Linked DNA regions of Homo sapiens: region 2 is linked to region 1. A link means that fine-mapping ties the variant in region 1 to the expression of a gene that starts in the linked region. Tissue or cell type: whole blood. Region 1 holds a variant in brackets; the other region holds the start of a gene. All regions are shown on one strand. Distances are from middle to middle.

Region 1 (8,100 bases):
TCAAGATGGGGTCTCATTGGAGTGCAGTGGCTATTCACAGCAGGGACAACAGACAGGTAATACAGCATCCAGCAAGAGGTAAAAGTTTTTGTCAGGCCAAGAAAACAAATAATTTTTCCAGAAGCTCTGTATTTTCTTCAGTCTTCAAGGAGGAAAACGTCGGCCAGGTGCTGTGGCTCATGCCTGTAATCTCAGCACTTTGGGAGGCCGAGGCGGGAGGATCACTTGAGGTCAGGAGTTCGAGACCAGCCTGGCTAACATGGTGAAACCCCGTCTGTACTAAAAATACAAAAATTAGCCGGGCATGGAGGTGGGCGCCTGTAATCCCAATTACTCGGGAGGCTGAGTCAGGAGAATTGCTTGAACCTGGGAGGCGAAAGTTGTATTGAGCCAAGATCGTGCCACTGCACTCCAGCCTAGCGACAGTAAGACTCTCTCAAAAAAAAAAAAAAAAAAAAAAACCACACACATACACAAATATTAAAAAACAAAATCTAAGCACTCAATAACCCAGTACTAACTGTATCCAACAAAATCCCAACATAACCAGTGAATTTATATTGTCCCCAATATTTTATTTTATTTTTTTGAGACAGAGTCTTGCTCTGTCACCCAGGCCGGAGTACAGTGGCGCCATCTCAGCTCACTGCAACCTCCGCCTCCTGGGTTCAAGCAATTCTCCCTATCTCAGCCTCCCAAGTAGCTGGGATTACAGGTGCACACCACCACACTGGCTAATTTTTGTATTTTTATTAGAGACAGAGTTTCACCATATTGGTCAGGCTGGTCTTGAACTCCTGACCTCAGGTGATCCACCTGTCTCAGCCTCCCAAAGTGCTGGGATGACAGGTGTGAGCCCCCAATATTTTATTATAATGAAACAAGACCCACAGTTGACAACACCTATGTTATTTCAGCTGTGTCAACATTCAGGGGGAGGCTGACTCTGTAGGCTACTACCCCAAAGTAAAATCATTCCCCAATTAGTAACTTTCTAATTAACTACATTATTCAAATATCCCTATAAAAGACCACAGTAGACTAAAAAGTAAGACATACTATGAAAAAATTATTAAAATCATAAAAAAAAAAAAAAGCAGCTCAGAAAGAGAATGCTGACAGTAAAGGCTGTGGGGCTAACAAACGATTCCACATCGTGAACGAAATCGATCTGCAGCAGCCATCCCAGCACCAATGGCACACAGTACCTGACACAGAGCTAGCAATGACTCTCGAAGGATCCCATGAATGTTTCCCCGATGGGGGTTTGGAACCCAAGGTGTGGGTCAACAGGAGACCTACACAAACAACAGAAGGTGGCCATACTGCACGTTGTAGGGTGCCAGGTGCCTCTTACCTCACTTGATCCCCATTGCCCATCTGAGAAAGTAGAACCTGAGAGGTAATGTGAGTGCCTGAAGACAGCTGGTAGCTGAAAGTGTGCAATGAGAATTCTGATGCCCCAATCTTCCAGAGCTTTTCCATGACTACCCCAGGACCACCTCAAAGACAGTGTGGCACTGGTACTGGTGGCTGGGTAGATACCAGGTAGCCTACAGCCCTGAAGGTACAAAGTATGACTCTTCAGGCTTCCAAAACTTGATAAAACATCCAATTCCTTTGCTTTAATTCGCAATTTAGTCCTTTTGTGATTTGGTTAGGAGACAATCTGGTTAAGCCTGATGCAGTTCTCACAGTAAATGTAAACACTAAGATAGGAGTTTACCATTCCTTCTTGGAGTTTTCTGCAAGTCAGTTCACAGCTCACAGTAAATAACCTTGCTAAATTAGTTTTTGTATATGTAAAGCCAAGATGTGAAGGTAGGCAAAACACAAACTCCCTTAAACAGGGCCAAGTGCTGCTGTCCTCTTTCCAGTCAGGCCATAAATGAGTTGACCCTTATTCCGGGTCCCACAGACACACACAGCACACAGGTGCAACGTCAGCAGGCCTATGAGGCCCTGCCCCTCCTTGACCTGTCTATCACTAACCTCTTCCTCATACTGATCACACAGAACTCAAGGCTGGACCCACCCTAGGGCAGTGCATTTTCTATTCCATCTTCCTAGCAAGCTCATCTCAATCCCTCACTTCCTGCAGGGGACACAACAAATAACAGGGTTTATCCCTCCTCCATTCCCTTTCTTCATTTTCTATTTCCTTTATTCTGCTTCCTTTTCCTAACATGCCTAATACTTGCTTATCCATTGTCTGGTTCCTCCTTGCACAGCACGTAAACTCTACGAGAACAAGGACAGAGTAGGTAGCTCAATGAATGAAAGATGACTGCATGGAAGCCTCCACAGCATAAGCTTCCATGAGGAGAGCTGTTAGGGTGTTTTTTGTTTTGTTTCTTTTTTTTTTTTTTTGAGACAGAGTCTCACTCCCAGGCTGGAGTGCAATGGTGCGACCTTGGCTCACTGCCACCTCCGCCTCCCAGGTTCTAAGCGATTCTCCTGCCTCAGCCTCCCAAGTAGCTGGGATTACAGGTGCGTGCCACCACACCGGGCTAATTTTGTATTTTAGTAGAGACGGGGTTTCTCCACATCAGTCAGGCTGGTCTCGAACTCCCCACCTTAGGTGATCTGCCCGCCTCAGCCTCCCAAAGTGCTGGGATTACAGGCGTGAGCCATCGTGCCCAGCCGTCTCTACTAAAAATACAAAATTAGCCGGGAATGGTGGTATGCGCCTGTAATCCCAGCTTCTCGGGAGGCTGAGGCAGGAGAATCGCTTTGAACCTGGGAGCCGGAGGTTGCAGTGAGCCAAGATTGCGCCATTGCACTCCAGCATGGGCAAGAGGGAAACTCCGTCTCAAAAAAAAAAAAAAAATGCAAATTGCTGCCACCTCTCCAACCTCTGCATGTCACCCTCAGTCCACAAGTCATAAAGCTCTCAAAAGAGAGCAAGCCAGTGGGGCAGAGCCCTTGCCTGTCGTGTTCACCAAGATATTCCCTGGTAAATGATTAACAGATCTATCTCTAATAAATGAGAAGCAGATGAATGATCCAGTCCGGGAAGGAACTCAAAGATCATTCAACGTCCGTCCTCCCTTCATAAAGGGGTCTATAGCAGTTCAATGATTCAAAACTCTCCTGGGCTATATTAGGCTGTACACACCGATATTGCATATCGCTGACTTTCAATATGTGTTAGCAACCAGGAGGACCTCTGCAATGCTGATGCCACATGGCCAAAGCTGAAAGACTGCTTTCACTCATATTGCTAGCAACTAAACCATCATACACTTTCCCAAATGAATGGAGATGGCGGGGGGGGGGGGGAGTTCATTCCTGAAGACAGGACAGAAATACTCATGGGATCCTTCTTCTTATTTTACTGCTGTCTGAAAACCATGACAGCTTTCTGGGATCAAAATTCAAAAACTCTGCATTAGAAAAACAATTCAACGTTACTGCTGCTCACTGGGATGTATCAATACAAAAATAAAGCAATCTTAAAAT[G/A]CAGAATATTCCGGTCTTAGACCCTAACCCTATAAAACAGGGTTATGAGCAGGGCACGGTGGCTCAAGCCTGTAGTCCCAGCTACTCCAGAGGTTGAGAAAGGAGAATCGCTTGTGCCCATGAGTTCGAGATCAGCCTAGACAACACAGCGAGACTCCGGCCCCGCTCCCAAATTTTTAAAAATAATATAATAAATAACAATAGGGTTATAGCGATATCTACCTATAGGGCGGGTATAAGACTTAGATAATCCGCGTAAAGCCCTTAGCTCTCAGCATTAGCTGTTAACGACAGTGACTGGTCGCTGTATAAAGAACAGTTTGCAAAACCCTTTCACGCCTCTTATCGTGTCTGGTTCACTGAGTAACTGCGAGGTGGATAAAGCCGAACGCCGCCGAGCCCAGGAGGACACGGGCTGGCACGCGGGGCCACAAAGCTGGTTCGCGAGGAGGTGGGACTCAAGCGCAAATCGCTCAACGCCCGGCGCTTTACAAAGCCGAGCAAGGAGGCTGGAGGTCCCGGTTCCGATGTCCGAGGGGACCGGGCATCCAGTAAACAGCGGGAATTCCGCAAGAAGTGGGTGGAAGAGGTAGCGAGGAGAAGAGCAGGAGTTTGGAGACGGAGGAGGCGGGGGGGCGGGAAGCTCTGGCCAGGTGCTGTCGGCCTCACTGCGCGGACCAGGTCAGGGCCGCCGCCCTCCCGCGCTCCCCCGCGGCCGGCGCAGGCGAATGGCGTCACGCGGCGTCCAGAGCAGACCAGCCGCCCGGCACCGGCGGAGAGCGCCTCCCCGCTCACCTGTCGGGCCTTGCCCAGGGCCCTCGCGCTGGTCTTGGCCGTCCTGCCGCCTCCTGGGCCACCACATCGCCACAGCAAGGCCAGCGGCCTGGCCACCGCTCTACTGCCGGCCGCCGCCAGCAGCCGGTACCACATCCCCAGACCCAGATCCCGCGCCGCCCGGGCGCGCGCATGCGCAATGGGAGAGCGGTCCTAGGGCCCCGCGAGCGCAGGGAGGACTCGCGCAGGCGCGGCAGGGGCGCGGCGCCGGCTGGGGCCCCGTCTTGGGTGTCCACGCCGTCGCCTGACCGTTCGAGGGTTTGATCGCCAGCGCAGCCTCGCCCTGCCCAGACAGCTGGGCCCTAAGGGGATAGCCAGCGCCTTTAGACTTATCTTAAATCGGGCATCGGCATCAACACTTATTTCTGGGGTCCTCCATGGAAAGCAGCTCCCGAAACAACACCCGCCCGGTCCGCCCTCCGCTGCACTGGAAAACCGCCCCTGGACGTTTCTGCCGCAGTGTCCCCCTCACGGAGTTCCGTTTGTCTGCTTGGTCGGTTGTTCTCTGGAGCCCCAGGACCCAGGCCGCTTGTATGTGCCTGCGGCCGCACGGCCCCAACACGCGGACTTCGAGCGGTACCGGGAGACCCGCGCGGCCTCCTCGGAGTGGACAGTGAAGCAGCAGCTGGGCTAGGCAGTGGGGCTGGGCCTGCCCATGGGGACCCGTCCACGTCTCCAGGACATCAGCCTGAGCCTCTTCGCAGCCTCGTTTTCTGTTGACCGAGTTCTGCAAGGGGACGTAGAGGAACCACAGCGTTCTTGCGCTTGAGACCGCTGTGATTTTCTGACATTTTGGAGGCAGAAATGCCTGGGGAAAGGCCCACAGATGCAACTGTCATCCCTAGTGCCAAAAGGGAACGGAAAGCGATTACCCTTGACCTCAAATTGGAAGTGTTACGACGATTTGAAGCGGGTGAGAAGCTCAGTCAGATCGCAAAGGCCTTAGATCTTGCTATCTCTACAGTGGCGACCATTCGAGATAGTAAAGAAAAAATCAAAGCGAGTTCACAAATAGCTACTCCTCTGAGAGCCTCTCGGTTGACTCGCCATCGAAGTGCAGTGATGGAGAGCATGGAGCAGCTGCTGAGCTTGTGGCTGGAAGACCAGAGCCAGCCAAATGCGACCTTGAGCGCCGCCATCGTTCAGGAGAAGGCTGAGTTTGATGACTTACAGCGTGAACATGGCGAAGGTTCTCAAACGGAGAGGTTTCATGCAAGTCAAGGGTGGCTTGTGAGATTCAAGGAGTGCCACTGTTTGCCCCACTTCAAGATGAACAGCGCAGCTCCCAGCAACAAGGACATGTACACAGAAATGCTGAAAAGCATCATCGAAGAAGGTGAGTACACCCCCCAGGTGTCTTTAACGTAGATGAGACGAGACTTGATTGGAAGAGAATGCCCAAAGGAACGTTTATTTCCGAGGAAGAGAATGCTGAGCCAGGGTTTAAGTCATCCAAAGATCGCTTGATGCTGCTGCTTGGTGGCAGTGCAGCTGGGGACTTTAAGTTGAAGCCCTTACTGGTGTACCGCTCAGAAACCCGCAAGGCTCTGAAGGGTTCTTGAAGCCCAGTTTGCCCGTGATTTGGCGCTCCAACAGAAAGGCTTGGGTGACCAGGAGCATCTTTCATGAATGGTTCACTTACTTTTTTTGCCGTTGAAAAATACAGTGCCCAAAATAATCTCACCAACAAAGCACTGCTCATACTAGACAGTGCGTCATGCCACTCTGTAAATTTGAGCGACCTTTCTGATAACTAAGAGTAGAATACCTTCAGGCCAGGCGCGGTGGCTCACGCCTGTAATCCCAGCACTTTGGGAGGCCGAGACGGGCGGATCACCTGAGGTCAGGAGTTCGAGACCAGCCTCAACATGGAGAAACCCCGTCTCTATTAAAAATACAAATTTAGCCGGGCGTGGTGGTGCAGGCCTGTAATCCCAGCTACTCGGGAGGCTAAAGCAGGAGAATTGCTTGAACCTGGGAGGCGGAGGTTGTGGTGAGCCGAGATCGCGCCATTGCACTCCATCCTGGACAACAGGAGTGAAACTCCGTCTCAAAAAAAAAAAAGAAAAAAAAGAAGTACAAGAGTATAATACCTTCATGACAGTACAGCTGACTCAATCCGGACCACGTGTCAAGGTGTAATCTCGACCTTGAAAGCTCATTATCTGAGAAGGACTTTTCAGCACATCCTAGAAGCAGCGGATGGTGAGGACACAGCTATGATCAGGGAATTTTGGAGAAACTACAGCATCATGGATGCTGTGGACATGGCCATCGCATGGGAGGAGCTCAAACCAGCACTAATGAACAGCATGTGGAAGAAGATTTGGCCTGAGTGTGTTCAGGCCCAGCGTTTTTCCCAGGCAGATAACATTGCACAGCTTCAAAAAAACATTGTGACCCTTGCCAGAAATGTGGCCTTTGAAGAGGTTGCTGAGGCTGCTGTGGACCAGTTGCTGCAGTCCCATGAAGAAGATCTCTCAAATGAGGAACTGATGCGGCTGGAACAGGAGCTGGCAGTGGGGGAGGAGGAGAGGGAAGATGGTCCCTGGGCACTGTGGCAGCTAACCACAGGAAGACTGTCGGCAGCCCTCTCACATTTTGAGGCTGGCTTGTAGGTCCTTGCTAGTAACAGCCCTAATGATGACTGGAAACTGAGAGGTTCCAGAGAAATCAGTGTTGCAGTAAACTGCTAGCAGGAGCTGTACAATGAGAAAAAGCGCCACTCAAAACAACTCTCTTAGGTCATTTTTCAATGTGTGTAACCAAAAGTTAATCAGAATAAAGCGGAAGCACCATGATGACCTCAACAGTGGAGGCCCAGCCAGGCCTCCCTGCTCTGTGGTGTTGGACATCCCTGGAAACCTTGCTGTTGGTATTTCCATTTTGATACTTGAGAGCATCAAATTTTGTCATTAAAATGTTATTTAAATATATGCTTTTAAAAGCTCATATATGTGTAAGAATCGCCAGGAAAACTTTTTTTCTTTGAGACGGTCTCGCTCCATCATCGAAGCTGGAGTGCAGTGGCACAATCTTGGTTCACTGTAGCCTCGACCTCCAAAGTTCAAGCAATCCTCATACCTCAGCCTCTGGAGTGTTGGGACTACAGGCACATGCCACCACCACCAGCTAATTATTTTGGTAGAGAAGGAGTCTGTGTGTTGCCCAGGCTGGTCTGGAACTCCCGGGCTCAAATGATCCTCTAGCCTGGACCTCCAAAAGTGCAGGGATTAAAAGTGTGAACCACCATGCCCAGCAGAAGACGTTTTTTAAAAAAGAAAAATTGAGGCCGGGCACGGTGGCTCACGCCTGTAATACCAGCACTTTGGGAGGCTGAGGCAGGAGGATCACAAGGTCAGGAGATCAAGACCATCCTGGCTAACATGGTGAAACCCCATCTCTACTAAAAATATACAAAAAAATGGCCAGGCACGGTGGCTCACACCTGTAGTCCCAGCACTTTGGGAGGTCAAGGCAGGCAGATCATGAGGTCAGGAGATCAAGACCGTCCTGGCTAACGAGGTGAAACACGTCTCTACTAAAAAATACAAAAAAAATTAGCCGGGCATGGTGGCAGGCGCCTGTAGTCCCAGCTACTCAGAGGCTGAGGCAGAAGAATGGCATGAACCTGGGAGGCAGAACTTGCAGTGAGCCGAGATCACACCACTGCACTCCAGCCTGGGCAACAGAACGAGACTCCATCTCAAAAAAAAAAAAAAAAGGAAAAGAAAAATTGCAAAGGGGAGACTAGCCCTTCCAGACATTAAAACCTAGATGAAATAAATATTAATCAATGTGACC
Region 2 (8,100 bases), 24 kb after region 1:
CACGCCAGCCTGAAAGGACAAAGCACCCATGGACAGGCTGCCCGTGGACCCCAACAGGGAGGCACGGGGAAGACACAGGGAACGTGAGTGGGCCCCAGTCCCACCTCCTTCTCTTATTACCTGATGACTGTGGGTGGGTCACAGAGTCAGAGGCGGCCACCCGATGCCAGCACCTCCCCAGTCTCCCAGGGAGCACCCAGGACACAGGAGAAATCAGGCCATCCCAACATCACTCCTCCTTCTTCCTGAATGAGGAGCCTCATTTTTGTTTGTCACATAATTTCCCAGCCTCCCCAGCAGCTAGACCTGGTAAAGTGACTGTTCTGACCCCCTCGGCTTGAGAAGATCAGGCAGATCTGAGCAGCTCTGGGCTCCTGGCTTCACTGACATACCCAAGTGCTTAGCCCTTCCATCCACCCCAGGAAGTACGTGTTCTCCCTGATTTATAGGCAAGAAAAGGGAGAACCAGAGACTAAATCAGGGCTATCTGAAAACAACAGTAATGGGCCGGGCGTGGTAGCTCACACCTATAATCCCAGCACTCTGGAAGGCCAAGGCAGGAGGACGGCATCCGGCCAGGCCCAATGCAATGAGGCCCTATCTCTATTAAATTTTATACAAATATGGGCTGGGCGCCGTGGCTCACGCCTGTAATCCCAGCACATTGGGAGGCCGAGGCGGGCGGATCACCAGGTCAGGAGATCGAAACCATCCTGGCTAACACATTGAAACCCTGTCTCTACTAGAAATACAAAAAATTAGCCAGGTGTGGTGGCAGGCGCCTGTAGCCCCAGCTACTCGGGAGGCTGAGGCAGCAGAATAGCGTGAACCCAGGAAGCGGAGCTTGCAGTGAGCCGAGAACGCACCACTGCACTCCAGCCTGGGCAACAGAGCGAGACTCCATATCAAAAAAAAAAAAAATCTTTTTTACATAAATATGTATGTGTGTGTATATACATATATATGTGTGTGTGTGTATACATACATATGAGAAAAAAGAAAAGACTTCTGAGAATTGTCCTTAAAGGTAGGGGCTGCCCCTCTTCAGCCATCCCTGCCTCCTGCTGCCTGGAATGCAGATGTAAAGGCTGCAGCTGGAATAGCCACACTGGGGAGAGTGACGTGATTGCAGGGGACTGCACCTGAGCCCTAAGCTGCTCACAGCCAGACTTCATTCAAGTGAGAGAAATACGATATTCCCACCAGTGTTATAGGGGAGGTTTTTGTCTCTTGCGGCCAAAGTAGATTCTGACTGAAAGACCCAGCTCGGTGGCTCACGCCTGTAATCCCAGCACTTTGGGAAGCAGAAGTGGGCTGATCACCTGAGGTGAGCAGTTCGAGACCAGCCTGGCCAACCTGGTGAAACCCCGTCTCTACCAAAAATACAAAAATTAGCCGGGCGTGGTGGTGGGCATCTGTAATCCCAGCTACTTGGGAGGCTGAGGCAGGAGAATCGCTTGAACCCAGGAGGTGAGCCGAGATTGAGCCACTGCACTCCAGCTTGGGTGACAGAGTGAGACTCCATCTCAGAAAAAAAAAAAAGAAAAGATTCTGACTGATGATCCCAATAGTTTCATGGTAACAAGACAGACACGTCCAGCTTGAATCCCAACTCTGCTAGCTCCTAGCTGTGTGACCTTGGGTAAGTGGATAAACGTTTCTCTGCCTCCATTCTCCCATGTCTCAAATGGGGATTACAATAGTACCATACAGGGTTATTGTCAAGATTAAAGTAGTTAATACTAAGTTCAGAGAACACTGGCCGGCACATAGTAAGCACCCAATAAATATTGATTATAATTTATCATTATTACTTTTTTTTGAGACAGGGTGTTGCTCTGTCACCCGAGCTGGAGTGCAGTGGTGCGATCACAGCTCACTGCAGCCTCAAACTCCTGGGCTGAAGGGGTCCTCCCATATTAGCCTCCCAAGTAGCTGGAACTCCAGTGTGTGCCACCACACTCAGCTAATTTTTTTTAACTTTTTGTAGAGACGGAGTCTCACTCTGATGCCCAGGCTGGTCTCAAACTCCTGGCTTCAAGCAACCCTCCTGCCTCTGCCTCCCAAATTGCTGGGATTATAGGTGTGAGCTACCATGCCTGGCCTATTACTGTTATTTTTAAGAATCATGGCCGGTGTGTGGTGGCTCACTTTGGGAGGCTGAGGCGGGTGGATCATTTGAGGTCAAGAGTTCAAACCAGCCTGACCAACATGGTGAAACCCCGTCTGTACTAAAAACACAAACAAATTAGCTGGGCATGGTGGTGCATGCCTGTAATCCAGCTACTTGGGAAGCTGAGGCAGGAGAATCACTTGAACACGGGAGGTGGAGGTTGCAGTGAGCCGAGATTGTGCCACTGCACTCCAGCCTAGGCAACACAGCAAAACTCCATCTCAAAAAAAAAAAAAAAATCAGCCCTGATTTAGACTCTGGTTCTCCATTGTCTTGCCTATAAATCAGGGGGAACACCTACTTTCTGGGGTGGATGGAAGGGCTAAGGACTTGTTTATGATGTCAGTGAAGCCAGGAGCCCAGAGCTGCTCAGAACAGACTGGCACTGTCATCACATATGGTGACCAGCCCAGGAAAAAGGTGCAGGAGCTACGCCTGGGGAAGCCGCTGGAAACCTCCTGGTGTTTAAAACATGGCCAGAGGAGCGTCAAGGAAGGCACGCTGGCAGGGACACCTCCGTTCTGCCCAGCAGCTGTACTCTAGGCTACCAGCTCTCCTCCGGGCTGTGAAAAAAGGCATCTTTTATTTGCCTATTTACTGACAGTCAGTGCCAGCCCCAGGCCTGGCGCACGGGCAGGGGATGAATGAGGGGAGGCCGCTGGCCTCGCAGCCTTAGCTTCTGCTCACACAGACCTGGGGATGCCGGCCACAGTGGCCGACTCTGAGCAGAACGCCAGCCTGCCCCTCTCACCAGGCTCACCCCACCAGTTCTGCACCCAGATGTGGGACTTGGCCTCAGAAAGGAGCGGGCAGGAAGTGGAAGAGTGAAAGCAAGAGGTCTGGCCACCCCCTGCCCCTCCTCTAGAGCCCACTGCTCTCATCGGGGAGGACCCCACAACTTAGCAATGAAAGGAAGCCGAAGAAAGCCGGCGGGGTTCCGGGGCACGGAGGGACCCTGGGCCGAAGCTCAGGACACGCGGGATGCACGGACCTGGCCTCCCGCGTCCTGCCCGCGGCGTGACCACCAGGAAGCGGTGTCATCACTGCAGCTGCCACCCCGAGAACCTGAGAAGTCACCCCGGTGTGCGGAGTCAACAGCGTCCTGTCTGCCCATACCTGCATCGCCTGCCAGGGCCCAGGGGCTCGCAGGGACAGGATGGCCATTCCTCTAGGGCTGCTGGCCACGGAAGCCTGGCCGTGGGTTCGGCACCTGCTGCAGGGAGAAGCCACCCCAGCACTGTGCCTCCCCACCCACCACACCCGCGGGAGCTCGCCCGGTCTCCCGGGCTCCTCGGGGGCAGGTCTCTCCCACCCACCCGTTCCACCGAGGGGGAAACTGAGGCTCGGAGCAGCCCAGGGCGGGGGCACGGCCACGCGGGTCCCCTGAGCCGCCCGGGTGCTCCGCACGCAGCTGGTGTGGACGCCGGAGCAGCGGCGGCGTCCCCGGGGTGGGGCGGCCGAGGTCTCGAGGCCCCTGCGCCGGGCGGGCCGCCCTCCCAGCCCCGTCCCCGCCGGCCCCGACCTCGCCGGCCCCGTCCCCGCCGGCCCCGTCCCCGCCGGCCCCGTCCCTCCCAGCCCCGACCCCGCCGACCCCGTCCCCGCCGGCCCCGTCCCTCCCAGCCCCGACCCCGCCGGCCCCGTCCCCGCCGGCCCCGTCCCCGCCGGCCCCGTCCCTCCCAGCCCCGTCCCCGCCGACCCCGTCCCCGCCGGCCCCGTCCCTCCCAGCCCCGACCCCGCCGACCCCGTCCCCGCCGGCCCCGTCCCCGCCGGCCCCGTCCCCGCCGGCCCCGACCCCGCCGGCCCCGCGCCGCTCACCTGACCGCCGCCTCGCATCTGTCTCCCGGCTGCGCTGGATCCGCCCGGCCGCCCCGCTACGCTGGATCCAGCCCCGCGCTCGCTGCTGCCGCCTCCGGCGCGGAGGTTCATGGCACGCGGGTCGCGAGTCTGCGAGCCCCGGAGTCCGCCCGGCTGTTCCGCGGGCCTGACCTGGGGCTGCGCGTCCTGGGTTTCCTCTCATCGCAGAAGGCCTGTGGCTGAAACCCAAACCCCAACACGTTTAAAAAAAATGGGCGGGCGCGGCGGCTCACGCCTGTCATCCCAGCGCTTCGGGAGGCCGAGGCGGGCGGATCGCGAGGTCAGGAGATCGAGACCATCCTGGCTAACACGGTGAAACCCCGTCTCCACTAAAAATACGAAAAATTAGCCGGGCGCGGTGGCGGGCGCCTGTAGTCCCAGCTACGCGGGAGGCTGAGGCGGGAGAACGGCGTGAACCCGGGAGGCGGAGCTCGGAGTGAGCCGAGATCGCACCACTGCACTCCAGCCTGGGCGACAGAGCGAGACTCCGTCTCAAAAAAACAAAAAGGGTGGCTTTTAACACTTTTTTTAACCTCAGTGGTTGAGGAGGAAAAAGGAACAGAGAACCACCGTGTGCAGGTGCCGCCAGCCACCTGCAGGGCCCCGCGGGGGCTTCACGGCTGCAGAGGGAGGGACCCGGCGCGGCTCTACCCTCTTTACACAGGAGGACGCGCCACACTGCGCTCAGGAGGCTGCTCCATGCAGGCGCCGGGCAGCGGGACTTCGGAGGCAGCTGGTGTCCGCGGGCCCTGGCGTTATTCCTGCTTTCCCGTTGTTTACACACAGAGCAGGCCTGCTGCTCCCCGCCCCCGTATCCCTACTCTTAGGCTTCTCGCGTGGAAGATTCAGCTGCCCCCGCTTGTGCCCGCAGGGAGGAGCTGAGGACAGATGAAGGCCAGCATATGCGCCTGGTGCGCTTGCCCTGAGCTCGCGGGCTCAGTTTACCCTCCCTGCAGAAAGGTGTGGTTTTGGCTGCCTCTGGGGCTTGGTCCACTTTGTTCAGTGGGCATGGTGATGACAGTGCCAGTAACTGGAGGCCTCCCAAGTGGGAGCCACACACCACCTTGCAGAGACCAGCTCGGTCGGGGAGACCCTAACCCGGCAGCGCTAGAGGAACTAAAGACACACACACACAGAGATAGAGAGGTGTGGAGTGGGAAATCAGGGGTCTCACAGCCTTCAGAGCTGACAGCCTCGAACAGAGACTTACCCACGTATTTATTAACGGCAAACCAGTGATAAGCATTGTTTCTGTAGATATTAGACTAACTAAAAGTATCCCTTATGGGAAACGAAGGGATGGGCCAAGATAAAGGGATGGGTCTGGCTAGTTACCTGCAGCAGGAGCATGTCCTTAAGGCACAGATCGCTCACGCTATTGTTTGTGGCTTAAGAATGCCTTTAAGCAGTTTTCCGCCCTGGGTGGGCCAGGTGTTCCTTGCCCTCATTCTGGTAAACCCACGACCTTCCAGCGTGGGCGTCATGGCCGTCATGAACATGTCACAGTGCTGCAGAGATTTTGTTTATGGCCAGTTTTGGGACCAGTTTATGGCCAGGTTTTGGGGGGCGTGTTGCCAACACCATCTCATTTAACCCTACGGAAGCCTGGGGGCCAGCAGTCACCTACAGGACAGGCAACTCCATCGGCCCCCCCAAGGCCACATCGCTCAGAAAGGGTGCAGTGAGATTCCACCCCAGCTTAGGGTGGCTTCGGACGCCGTGTCCCTCCATGCACTCAGACCTGGAGGGAGACTGCCCTGAGCCGCCGCTCTATCTGCTGCTTCAAGGTCCCCAGTCCTAGAGATTCCACGTCCACCTGGCCTCTCTCCCAGCTCCTCCTTCTGGAAAGGCCTTCCCCATCTCAGCTCCCACCTGGGCCCCACAGTACATCCTCAGCCTGGCAGTGAGAGGGACCCTGGGAAGAAGTCGGCCCCCACCTTCACCTCCTGGCTCCTCTCCCCAACAGGCCAGGCCCACCCCCACCCCCACCTTCACCTCCTGGCTCGTCTCCCCAACAAGCCAGGCCCACCCCCACCGGGGCCCCTGCCTGGCTGAGCCTCTGTGGAGCAGTCCTCCCCAGTAACCCCAACACCTCCTCCTTGCCTCTGCTCAGCAGTCCTCAGTGATCTCTGGGAGGCAGGGCCCTTCCCCTCACTCACTCACCTTCTCCCTAATCACTCGTCACTGTCTGATGTCTTCGGTTTTGCACATTTTTCTTTATTATTTCTGCCCCCCAGCCCCAACCACCAGAAGCAAAGAGCCGTAGGCAGCATTTTGTTGGCCTTCTTTGCTGCTTAATGGCCAGTGCCTGGACACAGAGGGTGCTTCCTTGCATGGACTGAGAAAGGAATGGGTCCCCGGTTGAGGCTGGCCCTGAGAGGAAGGAGGTTCCTCCCAGCAGGTGGCCCACTGCCCAAATGCATGTTAGAACCGGTTGTGGATCTGAACCAGTGTCTACAGAAGCAATGGGAACCCTCCTCCAAGGAGAGACAAAGATAAACCCACACTCTACACGCAGTTTAAGGTCTACTTTCTTAATCAGAATGTGTTGGCCAGGCGCGGTGGCTCATGGCTGGAATCCCAGCACCTTGAGAGGCCGAGGTGGGAGGATTGCTTGAGCCCAGGAATTTGAGGCTGCAGTGACCCGCTGCACTCCAGCTTGGGTGACAGAGCAAGACCCTGTCTCTAAAAATAAATAAATAAGTAAATAAACATAGAGTGTGTCATGACCATCTCTATTCCTCTGTAGACATTCAACAACACATTTTTTTAATTTTTAAATTTTTATTTATTTTGGGACAGGGTCTCACTCTGTCACCCACGCTGGAGTGCAGCGGCTCAGTCTCACCTCACTGCAACCTCCACCTCCCAGGCTCAAGTGGTTCTACCAGTTCAGCCTCCTGAGTAGCCAGGATCACAGGCAAGCGCCGCCACCTGGCTAATTTTGTTTGTGTTTTTTGTAGAGACATTTGCCACATTGCCCAGGGTGGTCTTGGAATCCTGGACTCAAGTGATCCACCCACCTCAGCCTCACAGAGTGCTGGGATTGCAGGCGTGAGCTACCACGCCCGGCCCCATTTTATTCTTATTTTTTATTAAGAGACAAGATCTCAGTCTGGCTAAAGCACAGCGGCATGAGCACAGCTCCCTGCAGCCCCGAATGGCTGGGTTCAAGTGATCACCCAGGCTTAGCCTCCCAGAGTCCTGGGAGAATCTGCAGTTACAGATAATTTATATACTGGTTTAGAACATTTACTATTTTGTTTTCTTTTCTTTCAGATGGGGTTGCCCAGACTGGCCTCCATCTCCTGGGCTCAAATGATCCTCCCGCCTCAGGCCAAGTACCTGGGACCACAGGCATGCACCACCATGCCCAGCTAATTTTTGTATTTTTTATAGAGACAGGGTCTTGCCATGTTGCCCAGGCTGGTCTCCAACTCCTGAGCTCAAGTGATCTGCCCACCTCAGCCTCCCAAAATTCTAGGATTTCAGGCATGAGCCACCACAAACAAATTTATTGAGCACCAACTATATGCCATGCTCTGCTCAAAGCACTAGGACACTGTGGTGAGAAAACAGACAAGGTCCCATCACTCAAGGAACCAGACAAGCAAAGATGCAAACTAATCAGAGATGTGATGAGCACAAGGAAATAAACAGTTTGACGAGACGGTGACTGAGATCAGGGGAGGAAGATGCTTGAGCCAAGACTCAGGGGTCAGAAGGAGAGAACCACTGAAGAGTGGGAGGGGCATCCAGGTAGAAACCATGAGTGCAAGGTCCTTGAGGAACCGAAAGAGCCTCCTATGAATGAGGAACTGGAAGCAGGTCCATGTGGCTGGAGTTTAGTATGAGGTAAAGTGAGGGGAGAGGACCAGAGACGGGAGGCTATGAGCTAATGGTAAACACATTGGCTTTGATTTGTGGTAAGATGGAAGCCATTGGAAATTTCTTTCAGCATTTTTTTTTTTTTAAACAGGGTCTCACTCTGTCGCCCAGGCTGGAGTGCAGTGGCACAATCTCGGCTCACTGCAGCCTCAACCTCTTGGACTCAAGGGATCCTCCTGCCTCAG

Evidence for each region. PIP is the estimated chance that this variant, and not a neighbour inherited with it, causes the effect.
Region 2: DEF8 starts here. The variant in region 1 is fine-mapped to the expression of DEF8 in whole blood (TOPMed, PIP above 0.99).

The regions. Positions count from the first base shown.
Region 1 is chr16:89,968,923-89,977,022 of GRCh38, reverse strand. It overlaps the pseudogene CENPBD1P and the pseudogene AFG3L1P. Among named protein-coding and RNA genes, the nearest start is that of SNORA119, 20 kb to the right of the region's middle. RefSeq lists enhancers at 3,412-4,395, 4,706-4,765 and a silencer at 4,086-4,565. The variant G/A (reference allele first, on the strand shown) is at 3,463.
Region 2 is chr16:89,944,703-89,952,802 of GRCh38, reverse strand. It overlaps DEF8 (differentially expressed in FDCP 8 homolog), which reads right to left and starts at 4,048. Exons shown (of 13, transcript NM_001242818.2): 1 at 3,989-4,048; 2 at 3,290-3,386. RefSeq lists a silencer at 3,919-4,018 and enhancers at 4,699-5,038, 7,930-7,979.